2 separate regions of the Homo sapiens genome follow, and region 2 is linked to region 1. The links come from fine-mapping of genetic effects on gene expression. Tissue or cell type: whole blood. Region 1 holds a variant in brackets; the other region holds the start of a gene. All regions are shown on one strand. Distances are between the middles of the regions.

Region 1 (8,184 bases):
ACTTAATACATGAATTTTAAATTTTATAAAATGTAATTAATTTAAATTTGCAGCTAGTGGTTACTGTACAGAAGAGCACAGATCTGTGGTAACAGGAAGGATGAGGATGTGGGTACTTGTGTCCATGTGGTAATAGGAGCTGTAGAAATTCTGTTTTGTTCTCTTTTCATTTCTTCCCTTTTTCACTGAAGTAGAAAACACTGTTATCAAGTGAGTCCAAATCCAGTAAAGAAGTGTGGAGGGACTGAAGAGAAAGAAGTCGTCAAGATCGTCTCTTGGAATAGTAAATGGTTGAAAGATTTCATCCATTTTATTGCCTTGATTAGGTTATGCTCATCAGATCCCCCAAATCTCAAAGCTAAGATTCATTGCTCATTTTCCATGTCAGCTAGTATTAATACTTTGAGGTTAAGAAACTTCTGAGGGATTACAGACCTAGCTTCTTTCCAGTGAATCATTTTGTCCATCTTAATGATTGTGGTTTAGCCTTTTTCGTGCAAAGATTTTCAGCTTTATCTTACATAGTTGAGAAACATATTATACAATGAGAAACATTTGAATCTTTCACACTTGCCAGTCCTAGATTATTTGGGTCTTCTCATTTCTTTTTAATCCCTGCTTGCTAAATTTTTTTGGATTCATCTTTCCTTCAGAGTTCCTTGTCAAATGCAGAACCAACTAATAAATAAACCACACAAGGCCAGGCTTGGTGGCTCACGCCTATAATCCTAGCACTTTGGGAGGCCGAGGCGGGCAGATCACCTGAGGTCAGCAGTCCAAGACCAGCCTGGCCAACATGGTGAAACCCCATCTCCACTAAAAATACAAAAAATTAGCCAGGCATGGTGACGCACACATGTAGTCCCAGCTACTTGGGAGGCTGAGGCAGGAGAATGACTTGAACTTGAACCAGGGAGGCGGAGGGTACAGTGACCCTAGATGGTGCCTCTGCACTCCAGCCTGGGCAATGAAGCCAGACTCTGTCTCAAAAATAAATAAATAAATAAATAAATAAACAAATAAATAAACCACACCAGTAATCATGTATTTCTCAGCCTCTTTACTTAAAGCTAACTTTTTAGGTCCATGCCTTCTATAATATTGCAGGATACAGTTTTACAAAAAGGTTTCCCACTACACGACATGGGTTGTCAACTTGATATCATCCAATAGGTTTCTTAGCCACCTGCTGTCTGGACCCAAAGGCAATGCCTTATGTTTGCATATTACTGCATGCAAGTTCTATCAGTTAGCTTTGCGGCAATCACAAACGGTCCCGAGTCTAAGCAGCTTACGTTAGACAGGTTTTATTTCTCTTACCTGCTACTTGTGAGCTGCAGCTCCGTTCCTGTGTAACACACATGTCTTCTTTACCCCAGTCTGAGGTATTCCAGTACCTGCGCTGAATGAGCAAACTGTCATTCTCTGGCAGAGAGAAAGCAGCAACGGCGTTGGCTCTTAAAGCTTCTCTTCAGAAGTAGTGACTATAACATCTGCTTACTAGTCATTGGGCAAACCAAGTCTCGTGGCCAAACTCAAAGCCAATGGGTCGGGGATGCATACTTCTCCCTCCTTGGGAGTCTGCAAGTCGGTGACGGAGGGGAGCCAGCAGAAGCTCTCCACGCCCTATCATTTAGGATTTCTATGACAGCTTCATTATATTGGCAGGATTGATTAAATCATTGGTTGTTGGTAATTAACTCTGCTCCCTGGAGATTGGGGAATGGGCCAAAAAGTTCCAAATCTCTAATCACCAGGTTGGTTCCCTTGGCAATCAGCCCCTGTCCTGAGGCCGTCCAGGAGCCCCAAGCCACCCGTCATGTCATTAGCATACAAAATTGCTTTGGAGATTCCGAGGGCTTTAGAAGTTGTGCGTCAGGACACTGGGGCAGAGGCCACATATATATTTTCTTACTATATGCATGTAGTTGAAAGTTTCTCTTTCCAAGAATACCCAGTCCATTTACATTTAGTTAATTATCTACATAGGCAAGAGGTAGCCCACCTTAATCCAATCACTCATTGAGCTGGATCCAAATTGGTCTTCACTGTATGTCAAGCTCAGCCCTGCTGCTAGGGTGTAAACCTACAAGGCTCACAGCTAAATACCTGCGGTGTTATCGGCCCCTGAACTCCGGCTTTTGTCTCTACTGTGCACAGATTTTCTGCCTCTCAGCTCCTGCTTTCCAAGCGGCAAATATTCACAGGGGAGAAGTCACTCCAAAGGCCAGGCTGGCTTCTCAGGGCTTCCCTCCTGTCTGTGATGGAAGCCCCATCACGTGACCGGGCGCGGCGGCTCACGCCTGTAATCCCAGCACTCTGGGAGGCCGAGGCGGGCAGATCACGAGGTCAGGAGATCGAGACCATCCTGGCTAACACGGTGAAACCCCGTCTCTACTGAAAATACAAAATTAGCCGGGCATGGTGGTGCATGCCTGTAATCCCAGCTACTCCGGAGGCTGAGGCAGGAGAATCGCTTGAACCTGGGAGGCGGAGGGAGGTTGCAGTGAGCTGAGATCACGCCACTGCACTACAGTCTGGGCTCGAAACTCCATCTCAAAAAAAAAAAAAAAAGAAGCCCCATCAACGTCTTGGCTGCCTTAAGAGCTCCTTAATTCCTTCAAAAATATATGTTTTCTGTTTTGACTGACTTTTCTACGTTTCTTTAGCAAGATAATTGGTCTGAAATCAGCTATTTGACAATTTCTAGGATAATTTTTAAAATTTTTCATTTTCTGGGCCAGGCGCAGTGGCTCATGCCTGTAATCCCAGCACTTTGGGAGGCCGAGGCAGGCAGATCACGAGGTCAGGAGATCGAGACCATCCTGGCGAACACGGTGAAACCCCGTCTCTACTAAAAATACAAAAAAATTAGCCGGGCGTGGTGGCGGGCGCCTGTAGTCCCAGCTACTCGGGAGGCTGAGGCAGGAGCATGGCGTGAACCCAGGAGGAGGAGCTTGCAGTGAGCCGAGATCGCCCCACTGCACTCCAGCCTGGGTGATAGAGCAAGACTCTGTGCAAAAAAAAATTTCTTTTTCTTTTTTTTCCTCTCATGAACTCTGCTACAAGAGAAGGTTTTGAGTATATTTGATTTCCCTCAACATTTTTTTTTTTTTTTTTGAGACAAGCTCTCACTCTCTGTCACCCAGGCTGGAGTGCAGTGGCCTGATCTCAGCTCACTGCAACCTCCGCCTCCCGGTTTCAAGCGATTCTCCCGCCTCTGCCTCCAGAGTAACTGGGATTACAGGTGCCCGCCACCACGCCTGGCTAAATTTTTTTATTTTTTAGAAGAGACGGGGTTTCACCATGTTGCCCAGGCTGGTCTTGAATTCCTGAGCTCAAGTTAATCCTCCTGCCTCGCCCTTCCAAAGTGCTTGGATTACAGGTATGAGCCACCGCACCTGGCCGGATTTCCCTCTACTTTGATAGAAATATATGATTATGGACGGGCAC[G/C]GTGGCTCACACCTGTAATCCCAGCACTTTGGGAGGCCAAGGCGGGCAGATCATGAGGTCAGGAGATAGAGACCATCCTGGCTAACATGGTGAAGCCCCGTCTCTACTAAAAATACAAAAAATTAGCCGGGCATGGTGGCAGGCGCCTGTAGTCCCAGCTACTCGGGAGACTGAGGCAGGAGAATGGCGTGAACGTGGGAGGAGCTTGCAGTGAGCTGAGATCGCGCCACTGCACTCCAGCCTGGGTGACAGAGCGAGACTTTGTCTCAAAAAAAAAGAAAAGAAAGAAATATATGATCATATAAAAACAAAATGAAAAACTAAAGAGTATTATTTCTAGTAAAATAAAAACTGTTAAAATTTGGGTCTATTTTCAGTTTGATACTATTTTCTGTTTATGTAACTTAAATCACTTTAGTTTTCAGAAAATATATCCAGAAAAAAATTATTTTCTTCAATTTATTGAGGCATAATTGACAGAAAATTGTATCTATTTAAGGTGTACAACTGATGATTTCACATATGTTAACACTTTAAAATGATTACCCTGGCCAGCCCTGGTGGCTCACACCTGTAATCCCGGCACTTTGGGAGGCCACAGCGGGAGGATTACTTGAGGCCAGGAGTTTGAGATCAGCCTGGGCAACACAGCGAAACCCCATCTCTCCAAAAAAATACAAAAAATTAGCCAGGTGTGGTGGCATGTGCCTTTAATCCCAGCTACTACTCAGGAAGCTGAGATGGGAGAATTGCTTGAACCTGGGAGGCAGAAGTTGCAGTTAGCTGAGATGGTGCCACTGCACTCCAGCGTGGGTGACAAAATGAGACTCTAAGTAAATAAATAATAAAATAAAGTTATTACCATGATAAAGTTAATTAGCATGCTGCATTAGTCTGTTTCGCATGGCTGTAAAGGAATACCTGAGGATGGGTAATTTATACAGAAAACAGGTTATTTGGCCCACAGTTCTGCAGCCTGCACTAACACGGCACCAGTAACTGCTGGGAGTCCGGGGAGGCCTCAGGAAGGCTTTACTGTTGGTGGAAGGCAAAAAGGGAGCAGGCATGTCACATGGCAAGAGAGGAGGCAAGAGAGAGATGCCAGGCCCTTTTAAACAATCAGATCTCTTGGTAACTAATAGAGTAAGAACTCACTCATGACCTCAAGGACAGCACCAAGCCATTAATGAGGGATCCACGCCCATGACCCAAACACCTACTAGCCCTTACCTTCAACACTGGGGATTGCATTTCACATTATGAGATTTGGAGGCAAATATCCAAACCACAGCACTTACCCAATACTTCCCACACTTACCCCCTCCCTTTTTCGGTGAGAACACTTCAGATCTACTCTCTTAGCAAGCTTCAGTATAAAATATAGTATTATTAACTATGCTCACCGTGCTGTACATTAGATCTTTAGAATTCCTTCATCTTATAACTGAAAGTTTGTACACTTTGATCAAGATCTCTCCATTTCCTCCCCCACCTCCCTTCCCGGCAACCACCAGGTTGCTCTGCTCTCTGCTTCTATGAGTTGGAAATGTTTCTTCTTTTTAGATTCCATATATAAGTGATACCATACAGTATTTGTCTGTCTCTGTCACACTTCACTGAGTATAGTGCCCTCTAGGTTCATTTATGTTGTTGATAGGCAGGACTTCTTTTTTAAAGTGGCTGAATAATATTCCGCTGTGTGTGTATGTGTGTCAAGTTTTCTTTTTATCCATTCACCTGTCAGTGGACACTTAGATTGTTTCCGTATCTTTGCTACTGTGAATAGTGCTGCAATGAACGTGAGATGCAGATCTCTCTTCCAGATCCTGGATACATACCCAGAAGTGGCACTGTTGAATTATGTGGTAGTTCTATTTTTAATTTTTTTGAGTAAACTCCATACTGTTTTCCAGTGAAATAAGACAGTCAAAGAGGTTTTTCCATATCTTGGTACCAGGAGCTTTAACTCAGGTCCAACTCACCGTGGGCCCAGCGGGTCCCGGAACCCATTCTCTGGTCATTTCCCGGGTCCAGATGTGTAGTTGGAACAGACGTGTTCAGCAGCTAGCAGAGTTTCCACACGGGTTCCCTGAGCTATAAAGTGAGGGCAATTGTGATGGGAAAGGACAAATGGAAGGCGTTACAGCCATCTCTACCTAGAAAAATACTAAAACAAAAAACACACCAATACTGCCTTCCTGGAGGAATGATATAGATGAGTGCCATCATCAAAGACTTGAAGTATGGAGGGGTGGTGATTCCTACCCCACATCCTTGTCCAACTCTCCTGGCCTGTGCAGAAGACAGATGAATCCTGGAGAATGATGGTGGATTCCCAGAAGCTTAACCAAGTGATAACTCTAATTGCAGTTGCTGTACCAGATGCTGTTTCATTGCTTGAGCAAATTAACACATATCCTGGTACATGGTATGTAACTATTGATCTGACACACACCTTTTTCTCCATCCCTGTCCAGAAGGCCCACCTGAAGCAGTTTGCCTTCAGCTGGCCAGGGACACCTTCACTGTCCTCCCTCAGTTTAGATCAACTCTCCAGCCCCATGTCACAGTGTGAACCCAGGAGGCAGAGCTTGCAGTGAGCCGAGATCGCGCCACTGCACTCCAGCCTGGGTGACAGAGCGAGACTGCGTCTCAAAAAAAGGTATCGATTTTAAAACTTGATTTTTTATATATGTATATATTGTGCAATGAGCACCATAGTCAAGTCAGTTAACATATTTATCGCCTCACATAGTTAACCTTTGTGTGTGTGTGTAAGATGAGAACACTTAAGATCTACCCTCTAAACAAATTTCAGGTATAAAATACAATAGTGTTAACTATAGTCACCATGCTGTACATTCCATCTCCAGAACTTACTCATCTTGAGTAACCGGAAATTTACACTCATGACCAGCATCCCCCCATCCCCCCACTTCTCCCTCCCTCCAGCCCTGGAAACCACCATTCTACTCTCTTCTATGAGTCTGACTATTTTAGATTCCACATATAAGTGAGAGCATGCAGTATTTATCTTCCTGTGGCTAGCTTATTTCACTTGCAAATGGACTTTATGAAGCTAGTATTATCCTGATACCAAAACCAGAAAAAGACAGTACAACAAAACTGTAAAACAGCATCTTTCTTGAATACTGATGCAGAAATCATTAATAAAACATTACTAATACATCAATAATAGATGAAAAAATTATATGATGGACAATTGATGTACTCCAGAGATATGAGGCTGGTTCAATGTTTGAAAAATCAATCAAAGAACAAAGTAGGAAGAATTAATTTATATGATTTAATAACTTATACAGCTATAGTAAACAAGGGTGTGTGATATTAGCAGAGTGCAGACCAATGGAACAAGGTAGAGAACCCATGACAAGAACCACACAAATATGCCCACCTAATTTGTCACAAAAATGCAAAAGAAATTCAACGCAGAAAAGATAGCCTCTTCAGAGAAGAGCAACTGGACATTCACAGGCACATACACACAAAATGAACCTTAACCTAAACTTCACAAACCTTAATCACAATTTAACTCAAATGTACCAGGGACTTAAATGCAAAATGTAAAACTATAAAACTTTAAGAAAAATATAGGAAAAAGTCAGCCGGGCACAGTGGCTCAAGCCTGTAATCCCAGCACTTTGGGAGGCCGAGGCAGGTGGATCACGAGGTCAGGAGGTCAAGACCATCCAGGCTAACACGGCGAAACCCCGTCTCTACTAAAAATACAAAAAATTAGCCAGGCGTGGTGGCGGGCGCCTGTAGTCCCAGCTACTCGGGAGGCTGAGGCAGGAGAATGGCGTGAACCCAGGAGGCGGAGCTTGCAGTGAGCCAAGATCATGCCACTGCACCACTCCAGCCTGGGAGACAGAGCAAGACTCCATCTCAAAAAAAAAAAAAAAAAAGAAAGAAAAGAAAAAGAAAAAGAAAAATATAGGAAAAAGTCTTCAGGATCTAGGACTAACCAAAGGGTTCTTAGATTTGACACCCAAAGCACTACCCATTAAAATGTTGGTAAATTGTACCTCACAAAGTCTTTTCTCTGTGAAAGCCCATAAGAAGGGCATGAAAAGACAAGCTACAAACAGGGAGAAAGTATCTGCAACACCCATATCCCATAAAACGAATATCTAGAATATATTTTAAAAAACTCTCAAATAATAACAGTAAAAACAAAAATCCAATTAGAAAATGGCCAAAACCATGAAGAGCCATGTCACTGCAGAGGATATGCAGATGGCAAATAGGCATACAACATGCTCCGTATCATCAGCCGCCAGGGAACTGAAAATGGAAGCCATAAGTAGATATCACCGCTTTGTCATGCTGTGCAGAGGGGCCCTGGGCAGAGGCCAGTCCCATCATTCTAAGCTCTGCTAAGGCCCTCTGCGATGGACACTCTGAAGGCCATTCTATTCGCCTTTTAATGAATAGTGACAAAACAAAATGCTGGTGAGGATATGGAGAAACTGGTTCACTCATACATTGCTGGTGGGGATGTAGAATGACACGGCCATCTGGTAAAGAGTTTGGCAGTTTCTAAAAAAAAAAAAAAAAAAAAAATTAGGCCAGGCGCTGTGGCTCATGCCTGTAATCCCAGCACTTTGGGAGGCCGAGGTGGGTGGACCACCTGAGCTCAAGAGTTCGAGACAAGCCTGGCCAATATGGTGAAACCCTCTCTCTACTAAAAATACAAAAATTAGCTAGGCA
Region 2 (8,184 bases), 62 kb before region 1:
GCCTTAGGGTTTTTTGTATTTATTAATAGTGGGGTACAGATGGTTTTTTTTAGTGTACTGTACATTAATTATTAATTATCTCTGGTCTCTGAAATCCTGTCATAAACCTTCCCCCTTCCCCTTATATAACAATGCGTATGAAGCATGATTTGTCTGCACTGACTACAAATAAGCTGTTTGGCAGAACAAGTCTGTTAACGTGGAGAAGGAAAGAAATTACATACTGTTTTTTAAAGTAACCCCAGCTGGCTAATTTAGAAAGCAATCTGGTAAACAGTCCCAATGGAACATCTGCACAAAACGAGAAAACAGAACCAACAAAACAAACGAAAAAGGGAAATTAATGAAAGAGTGAAAACTTACCTAGCCTTTCTTTAATCATTTAGAACTTTAAGATTCCTTTAATTCTATATAAATATATTACCTCCAAATTGTACACTGGTAAGAATACAATAAAACAGCACACATGCTGTTGCAAGTTTTTATTGAGGCCATTTCCCAAATTACTAGCTACTACCTATGCAAAAGAATAGTTCTTAAATAAAGCCAGCTTCTAAAAATCCCAAACATATCCCTTGGCCTCATCTACAAATATAACCTGTACGACATGGTATAAGTGACTAATAATACATGCTGCTTTTCTCTGTTGGAATAACTCCTCCCCTATAAAACCCTACCTTATTTCTGAAACAATGAGCACTACAACATACCCATCTCCCTCCTACATACAAGTTAAAGGTACTCATTGGGCATTCTATCACTATTACTTAACTTTTTGTGTGTCATCTCCCTAATCACGTTACTGGCAGTTGGGACTCACCATGTTATTTAATACATTTCACATTCACTTACTGATCAACTGTCTCCTACCACTCCCAGGCAGACAGACATACATAAGGATAAGAACTTTGTTTTATTTACAGCTGTAGCCTCAGCGCCTATCTAAAATAAGTACTCAAATATTTTCTAAACGAATATTTGTTGACTGAATTATAAAACAATTTGACAGATGAAAGCTATATAAGCAAATGACAAATCATTTAAAACTATTAGAGCTAAAATGCTAGTAGTTCAAGAGTTAATTTACCAATCAGATTCTTTAAACTGGTGATGTGGTTTACAATGCCTGTTCTCTTGTGTGCTACTATGAGATCTCCTCTTCCGCTTGTGACTTCCACGATAGCTTTCATGTCCCCAGCTTTCTCTGCTATCCCAATCAGGACAGTGAGTTCTTTTGGAATGCCGCATCTGTTGATAGAAATGAAAAGGGAATTGTGGAGGTTACAGATGTGTGATAGGTAAATTATTATATATTAATATTATTTAAGTTATCAAAACCCAACACACAGGGTCTTACAGGCTCCAAAATCTTTTTAGGTGGTAATGCTTCCCAAGGCACTGGTATGTCAGATGACTGCTAAGAGGCATAGAGATCTAGTATTAAATTGTGGGTAATACTGATACCTTAAGACATTTTTTTTTTTTGAATTCTGATTACAGCCAGGACAAATTCTCAGCTTGGTGCTTGTCTTCAACTAACACTTGCTAACTGCCTTTTTAAAAATTAAAAAAAAGCCGGGGGGGGCAAATAAAAAGGTTCAGGCCTAGTGTTTCCAGCAGACAAGAGTATTTAGCTAAAAATTAGTAACGTTTTTATTTATCTTATTTTGTTACTTTCTACTTATTAGTGATTTTCCAATTAAGTTATTGACATATTTTCTTTTAAAAATGTTAACATTAAAATGTGAGCTGATTTAAGGAGAAATAATATCAGTGTCATGCAGCTTTGGCAAAGTACTGTAATACAAATAACTGAAGTGCAAGACAAAAACACTTAGGGATACTAAATATGGGAGGTGACTTTGTTTTAATGGTAAAGAGCTATTCAATGATGAAGCTTCTTTTTCTCAAATTCTCCATAGTTCTTTTCTCTAAATCTCAGAATGACTCTAAGCTTTGAGAATATTAGTTCTGTGTGGATAGAACACAATATTCAACAGAGAAACTGAAGAGATATAAAAAGGTGATTTTAGGCCGGGTACGGTGGCTCATGCCTGTAATCCCAGAATTTTGGGAGGCCAAGCCCAGGAGTCTGAGACCAGCCTGCGCTACACATAGTGAAACTGTCTCTACAAAAAAAATTTTTTTAAATGTTTATGTGATTTTATGAACTCATTTTCTCTATCCAACAAGTTCATTTTCTTATCCAGCAGTTATTCTTAACCTTAAAATCTATTTGTAGTAAATCTGGAGTAACTCTGAAAAAGAACTCAACCTACAAGGATGCACACTGAAGCATGGTCACAGTGAAAGCAAACGATAACGGTGACAGCTGACTTTATTTACAAACTCCAGTGCATAACCTGGGTTCCTTCCAGGCTCAGCATCTGCGCTCAAACAATATAACCCCTATCTGTCTCTCCCCATCTTAATTATTTTCCAAAACAGTTAAGTTTTAACAGTCAGGTCCAAATTCTCCTAAACAGGGTGAGTTTAAATGGTAAAAAGAGAAGAATTTCACAATTCAGCAAGGAGCTGAAAAAAGCTAAAATGGAGTAAAACCCACTCAGTTAACCTCATTCAGCTTGCCCAAATGACTAATAAGCAAACAAATGCAAGCAGAAATTTAAATGATTTTAAATGGATTAAAGGTTTTGGAGTGAGGCAGCTTCAATTCTTCTGGGAGGTATTCCACAAGAAAGTATGTGTCACGCCATCAGAGTCTGATTGCCACCAGATAGTCAGATATTTTAATTCACTCTCTTGCTGATTCTAATTCTATACCCATCAAGCATCCTTCTAAGGTGGCTCTCAGCTCACTTTACAGAGGAAGAGAAGGCACTGATCAGGCCAAACAGCAATTCTAAAACTCTTGTTAGCGTCTCAATGGAAGTGAGCATTCCGGTTTGATACAAATGGAGTCACTTCCATATGGGAACGTGACATGAATAACAGCACACATTTACTTGAGGCAAAAGGCCAAAACACAAACTTTCTTCATTAGAGCTATCAAGAAAAATTTATGGCTGGACGCAGTGGCGCCTCATCCCTTGAGCCCAGGAATTCGAGACTGGCCTGGGCAACACGGCGAAACCCTGCCTTTACAAAAAATACAAAAAATTAGCCGCACATGGTGACTCGAGCCTGTAGTCCCACCTACTGGGACAATCACTGGAGCCCAAGGAAGTCAAGGCTGCAGTGAGCCATGATCACGCCATTGCATACCAGTATGGGCGACAGTGAGACCCTGTCTCAAAAAAAAAAAAAAAAAAAAAAAGAAAATGTGTATTTCAAGTGCAGTTCTTCTGAAGCGTTCCGTCAAATACCAAAGTTGTATTTTAACCACATCAGGAACTCAGCTTGGTTAAGCATTTTTAAATCATAGCAAGCAAAATCACATCTGATGACCGAGCGTTATTATTATGACCCTCCATTACTATGAAGTTTTTTTCAAGACTTATGTATCTTCTTCAGTTTTGTTTTTTCCTCTTCTACTGTAAGTCTGCTTACAACCAGCTAACCTCCAGCAAAACAGAACTCTCAAATTATCAGTTAATATGCAAACATTAAAATAAGAACGAGCTCCGTTGTGAGAGTCCAAAATTCTTCTCAAGTTCACTACTTCAAATGTAATTCAGCTGTTAGTCCCAGCCTCTGACCTCCCCCACTCACCCTGCAATGTTCAAAAATATTTTATCTGGAGGCACAAAGATCACCCGACCCACGTTCTACGTGGTAAGGTTCCTTCGCATACATAAAAAAGAAAAGCTATCTAGAATCATGACACTGCCTCTAATAAAGCATCCCACATGCTAGAGTAGGTATCTTTCAAAAAATAATGACACAATGGATCTCATATGTAGATCCATCGCCACTGCCCTTAAGATCCTGTAGTTCTTGACAACTTTACGCTACGTACATGGCTTAAAAACATCGAAACAGGTTATAAGTTTAGGATTGGATGGCTCCAAGAGGACTGCATTTAATGGGTTACAAGCCTGTAGGGGTGTGTAAAAAGCACAATCGCACAGGACAGCTATGAGGCAAGACAAAGTGGCTGGCGAGTTCAGTTTGCGGGGCGGTTTCCTAAGGATCGGATAAGCCTATCTGGACTATTTAGGCAACCAGGGATAATAAGATGCAAAACCACCAGAAACGCAGGTTCGCTGCAACAATGTTGTGTTCAGCATAGCACAGAGGACTAGCCTCCGCAAATTTCCACCTCTCACAAGCAGCTACTGCCCTCAACCACCTGGATTTGCACGGACGCCCGGTCCCCACCTCCCGGCTCCTGGGCACCCGGCCAGTGCCTTTGGCGCACTCAAGACAGGGGCAAATGCTTGACTCTGGAAAACCCCCGAAACGCTACAAACGGCCCAGGCCAGGAATCCAGGGGAAGACTTGATCTCCGACAACACGAATGCCAGAGACGGCTCTCGAAGGGTCTCCCGACAGGTCCTAGCGCCCGCCGGCTGGAAGAGGTCCCGACAGGGTTAACCAACAGCCGCGCTCGCCAGGCAGCAGGGGACCGCGAGCCCACGGCCTCCGGAGCCGCGACGCGAGCGGCCAGGGCCCTCAGAGAAGGGTCAGCGGCAGAACCGCGACGCCCGAGCAACTTTCGGTGCTGCCGGCGTGCACCAGCCGAGCAGCGCCTCGCAGAACTCCCAACTCAGCTCCAGAAGCCCAGGCCCCTAACGCGGTCGTTTCTCCGACACCTGGCTCGGAGACCTAAAGACCGACAGCCGCCTGTCCCAGCACACACCATCTGCAACCCTACCTCCGCAAAAGCAAATGGCCCTTCGGCCGAGAAATGTCGCCAAACTGCCGTCTTCCCTCCTCGGCCGCTGCGACAAACACCCCACAAAATGGCGGCAGCGCCGTCGCCCTAGAATCCCCCGAGTCGCCTCTAGCACCACCTACGCCGCGCGAACGCGCCTGCGTGACAGAACCTTGCGCGCTCCCGCCGCTCCACCTAAGGGCGGGGCTCCACGTGACGTAAGAGCGGGGCTCGAGCCTCCACACTGCGGCTGCGCGGCCCAAGCATTTCCACCCCCCCCCCCCCGCCCACCCGGTCCCGGGGCCTCTAGGCCGGGAGGGTGTTTACGTTCTCTACGGGCTCGGGTGGAACCGGGAAGGAACGCCCGTGTCCCGCCCTCAGTGTGTACCGCGTGTCTGCCCCCTCCCCCGGGACCTCAACTCCCGCAGCCGGCACCCGACAACGGCCCCAAAACCGCCTAGGGCGGGCCTTGGCTGGTCCCTGGGCTGTTCCCTGGACTGGGTGCTTGTCCTGCCCACTTGGCGCTTCCAGTCTAAGGTGGATTCGGACAAAGAGGCTGTCTCAGAAAACAAGCTCAAGGGGTGCTAATCTTTTCAAGGCACGTGCTCCTATTCAGAACAAAACAAAAACCCGGAGGTTTCAATGGAGACTCCTGACAAGGTTTTCCTGTTAGGATCCCTACCTCCTGAGCAGTTAAGGTCGCTGGAAGTTTCCCTAACGAAGTTTTCCCCATTTTTTTTTGTCCCTGCGGGCTGATTTTATTCAAGGCTGAAAAATGTCTCTGAGCTAGTGATAGTCCGTTATGGGGCTTGCTTACCTCAAATAAGGTATTCTGCAGTTCTGAGGACCCTCAGGCAGTTCCCCCGTGTAAGTATGTAACATGAGAAATATTAGGGTCAAAGTCGGAGCCCTGTGGGGAACACTCAAGGGCCAGAGGGAAAGGGGCCTGAGAAGGAATGATCAGCAGAGGAGGAGAACCAAGAATAGGGTGTCAAAGCAAGGAAGGGCGTAAGTGAGGGAAAGGGTTTAGGTGAGACTGAAGATCGTGGGGGGGGACGGCGGGCGGGGTGGGGGTTGGCTTCTGTATTCTGACGGGGATTCGCTGGATAAAAGGGAAAGCTAGAAATCAAATTTGGGAGGGTAGGGTTGAACTCTTGCGGGTATTAGCCCAGTAGCATGTGGGAGACCTGTTATCCTGTTAGGTGAAAGGAGGGAACGGAAATACCTTTAGTGATCTAACATGATAGAAACTTGTGCCATCTGGTTTGGGTAAGTAGGGTAAATTTAGATAAATCTCGGAGATTGTACAGCATTTCAAAAAGTAAGTTGAATTTTCATGGAGATTGCACTCCAAGAAGCGAAGTTGAAAAGAAACTTGGAAAACTGGAAGGGTAAACTCTTTATGCTACAGAATGAAACAAATGATATTATTTTCATCTAGAATAGCCACCATTTTTGCATCTACAAATTTAAATCTTACTCATCCTTGAAAGGCCATTTCTTTAAGATGCTGTCTCTGACATGAGTTCCCACCCATTTCCCGGCTCCTGACTACTCCAGTTAGATGTGAAGTCCTCAAATAGTGGAGTATTTGGAGCCACCTGGTATGCTAACAGATTTTGCCCAAAGAGTGAAATGTATTGGTTCTACAATTGATTACACATCCCGTCTCAAGGGAATCTATTAGATAGAATGTTGAGCTGACTGGTCTGGGCGATAATACAAGGTAGAGTGGGGCTCAAATTGCAGCATATGAGAATGTAAATTCAAGCTGGCACCAAAGAATGTTCTCCTGTTTCATGGAGTAGGAGAGATCCTGCCTCCTGGGGTTATAAGAAAGTGTGGTCAGGACAGCCCACAATTCTGCTCAAAAAAGCAACACTATGTTAAAAAGCAGCCACTTGAAATGCCACCTACAGAGGCCTTTATATTATAGACGTCACACACACTGTTACCCAATAGTAGAGTCTGCTTTGTAATTACATTCATCTCGCTTTAGTGTTTTAATTTGTATGCCACCAAAAGGTCTAATGTTTAAAAGTGTGTAGTGATCAGAAGGAAGCTGAGAATGACTAGCACCTCTATGCTATGTGATGCAGCACTATGGTGCCCCTAGTCACTCTCTGTGGCTTTGTGCTGAGTTTGGAGACAAGGACCTGATTTATATTGTCTTTGGTATCTCAGGCCTAGAACCCAGTAAATATTTGTAGGTTGTTTACATAAGCTGCTTTGGGCCATTTTGCTCAGTTGGTTTAAGGTCAAAGTGAGTAAGTTAAAGGTAGACATTTCATCCCAGCATCACTGCACCAGTTAGCTTACCACCCTTTCGTGGCAGCCTCAACCCTTCCTATTAAGTCAGTTACCTGGCAAGACTTAATGAAAAGGTTTATCTAAATTTCTGAGAATCTACTACCAATACCAGAAACACTGCCTAATCCAGTGGTTTCATCTCTACACAAGAACAGTATGTCCAAAAAAACCTTTGAGTTAACTGATGTGTCCAAGCAGCTAGTCAAAGGCTGGGCACAGTGGCTCACGCCTGTAATCTCAGGTTGCAGGCAGAGGTGGGTGGATCACTTGAGCCTGGGATTTCAAGACTAGCCTGGCCAACATGGTGAAATCCCATCTCTACAAAAAATACAGAAAAAAAATTGGCTGGACATGGTGGTGCATGGCTGTGGTCCCAGCTACTCGGGAGGCTGAGGTGGGAGGATGGTTTGAGCCCAGGAGGCAGAGGTTGCAGTGAGCCAAGATCGTGCAACTGCACTCCAGCCTGGGTGACAGAGCCAAACCCTGTCTCAAAAGCAAAAACAAAAAGAACTAGTTTAAGAATTTTTTTGGCTGGGCACGGTGGCTCACGCCTGTAATCCCAGCACTTTGGGAGACCGAGGCAGGCGGATCATGAGGTCAGGAGTTCGAGACCAGCCTGGCCAATATGGTGAAACCCCGTCTCTACTAAAAATACAAAAATTAGCTGGGCATGGTGGCGGGTGCCTGTACCCCCAGCTACTTAGGAGGCTGAGGCAGAAGAATCGCTTGAACCCAGGAGGCGGGGCTGCAGTGAGCTGAGATCGTGCCGCTGCACTCCAGCCTGGGTAACAGTAAGACTCTGTCTCAAAAAAAAAAAAAAAAGAAATTTTTAGCTTTGAAGAGCAACCAAAGGAATATTCTTATCACATATTCTAGGATATGTATACGACATGCTTAACTTCAGACATCAAAAACACTCATATATGAGAGCCAGGTTTTAGAGTAAAAGTCTAAATTATTGTGTAAATTAAACAAAAGCTTATTACCGTATAGAGTAACCTTTACAAAGGTATAAACCTTTGCAGTTATAGCCTCTGTTATTAGCTGCTGGTTACTGATACTTACTAATTAGACTTGCTTTTAGCTATCAAATGCTC

Alleles and levels. Positions count from the first base shown, and alleles are read on the strand shown. Sizes are in standard deviations (SD) of each study's normalised expression.
As copies of G replace C in region 1, the expression in whole blood of the gene that starts at base 4,882 in region 2 goes up (small effect, 0.39 SD a copy in GTEx).

The links. PIP is the estimated chance that this variant, and not a neighbour inherited with it, causes the effect.
Region 2: it holds the start of CLK4, and the variant in region 1 is fine-mapped to the expression of CLK4 in whole blood (TOPMed, PIP above 0.99).

Annotation. Positions count from the first base shown.
Region 1 is chr5:178,684,058-178,692,241 of GRCh38, forward strand. It overlaps a transcript of MSANTD5 not described here. Among named protein-coding and RNA genes, the nearest start is that of MSANTD5, 9.6 kb to the right of the region's middle. The variant G/C (reference allele first, on the strand shown) is at 3,454.
Region 2 is chr5:178,622,169-178,630,352 of GRCh38, forward strand. CLK4 (CDC like kinase 4) reads right to left here and starts at 4,882. Exons shown (of 13, transcript NM_020666.3): 1 at 4,778-4,882; 2 at 1,088-1,248. The coding sequence starts at 1,248. RefSeq lists enhancers at 3,828-4,508, 4,241-4,850, 7,918-8,184.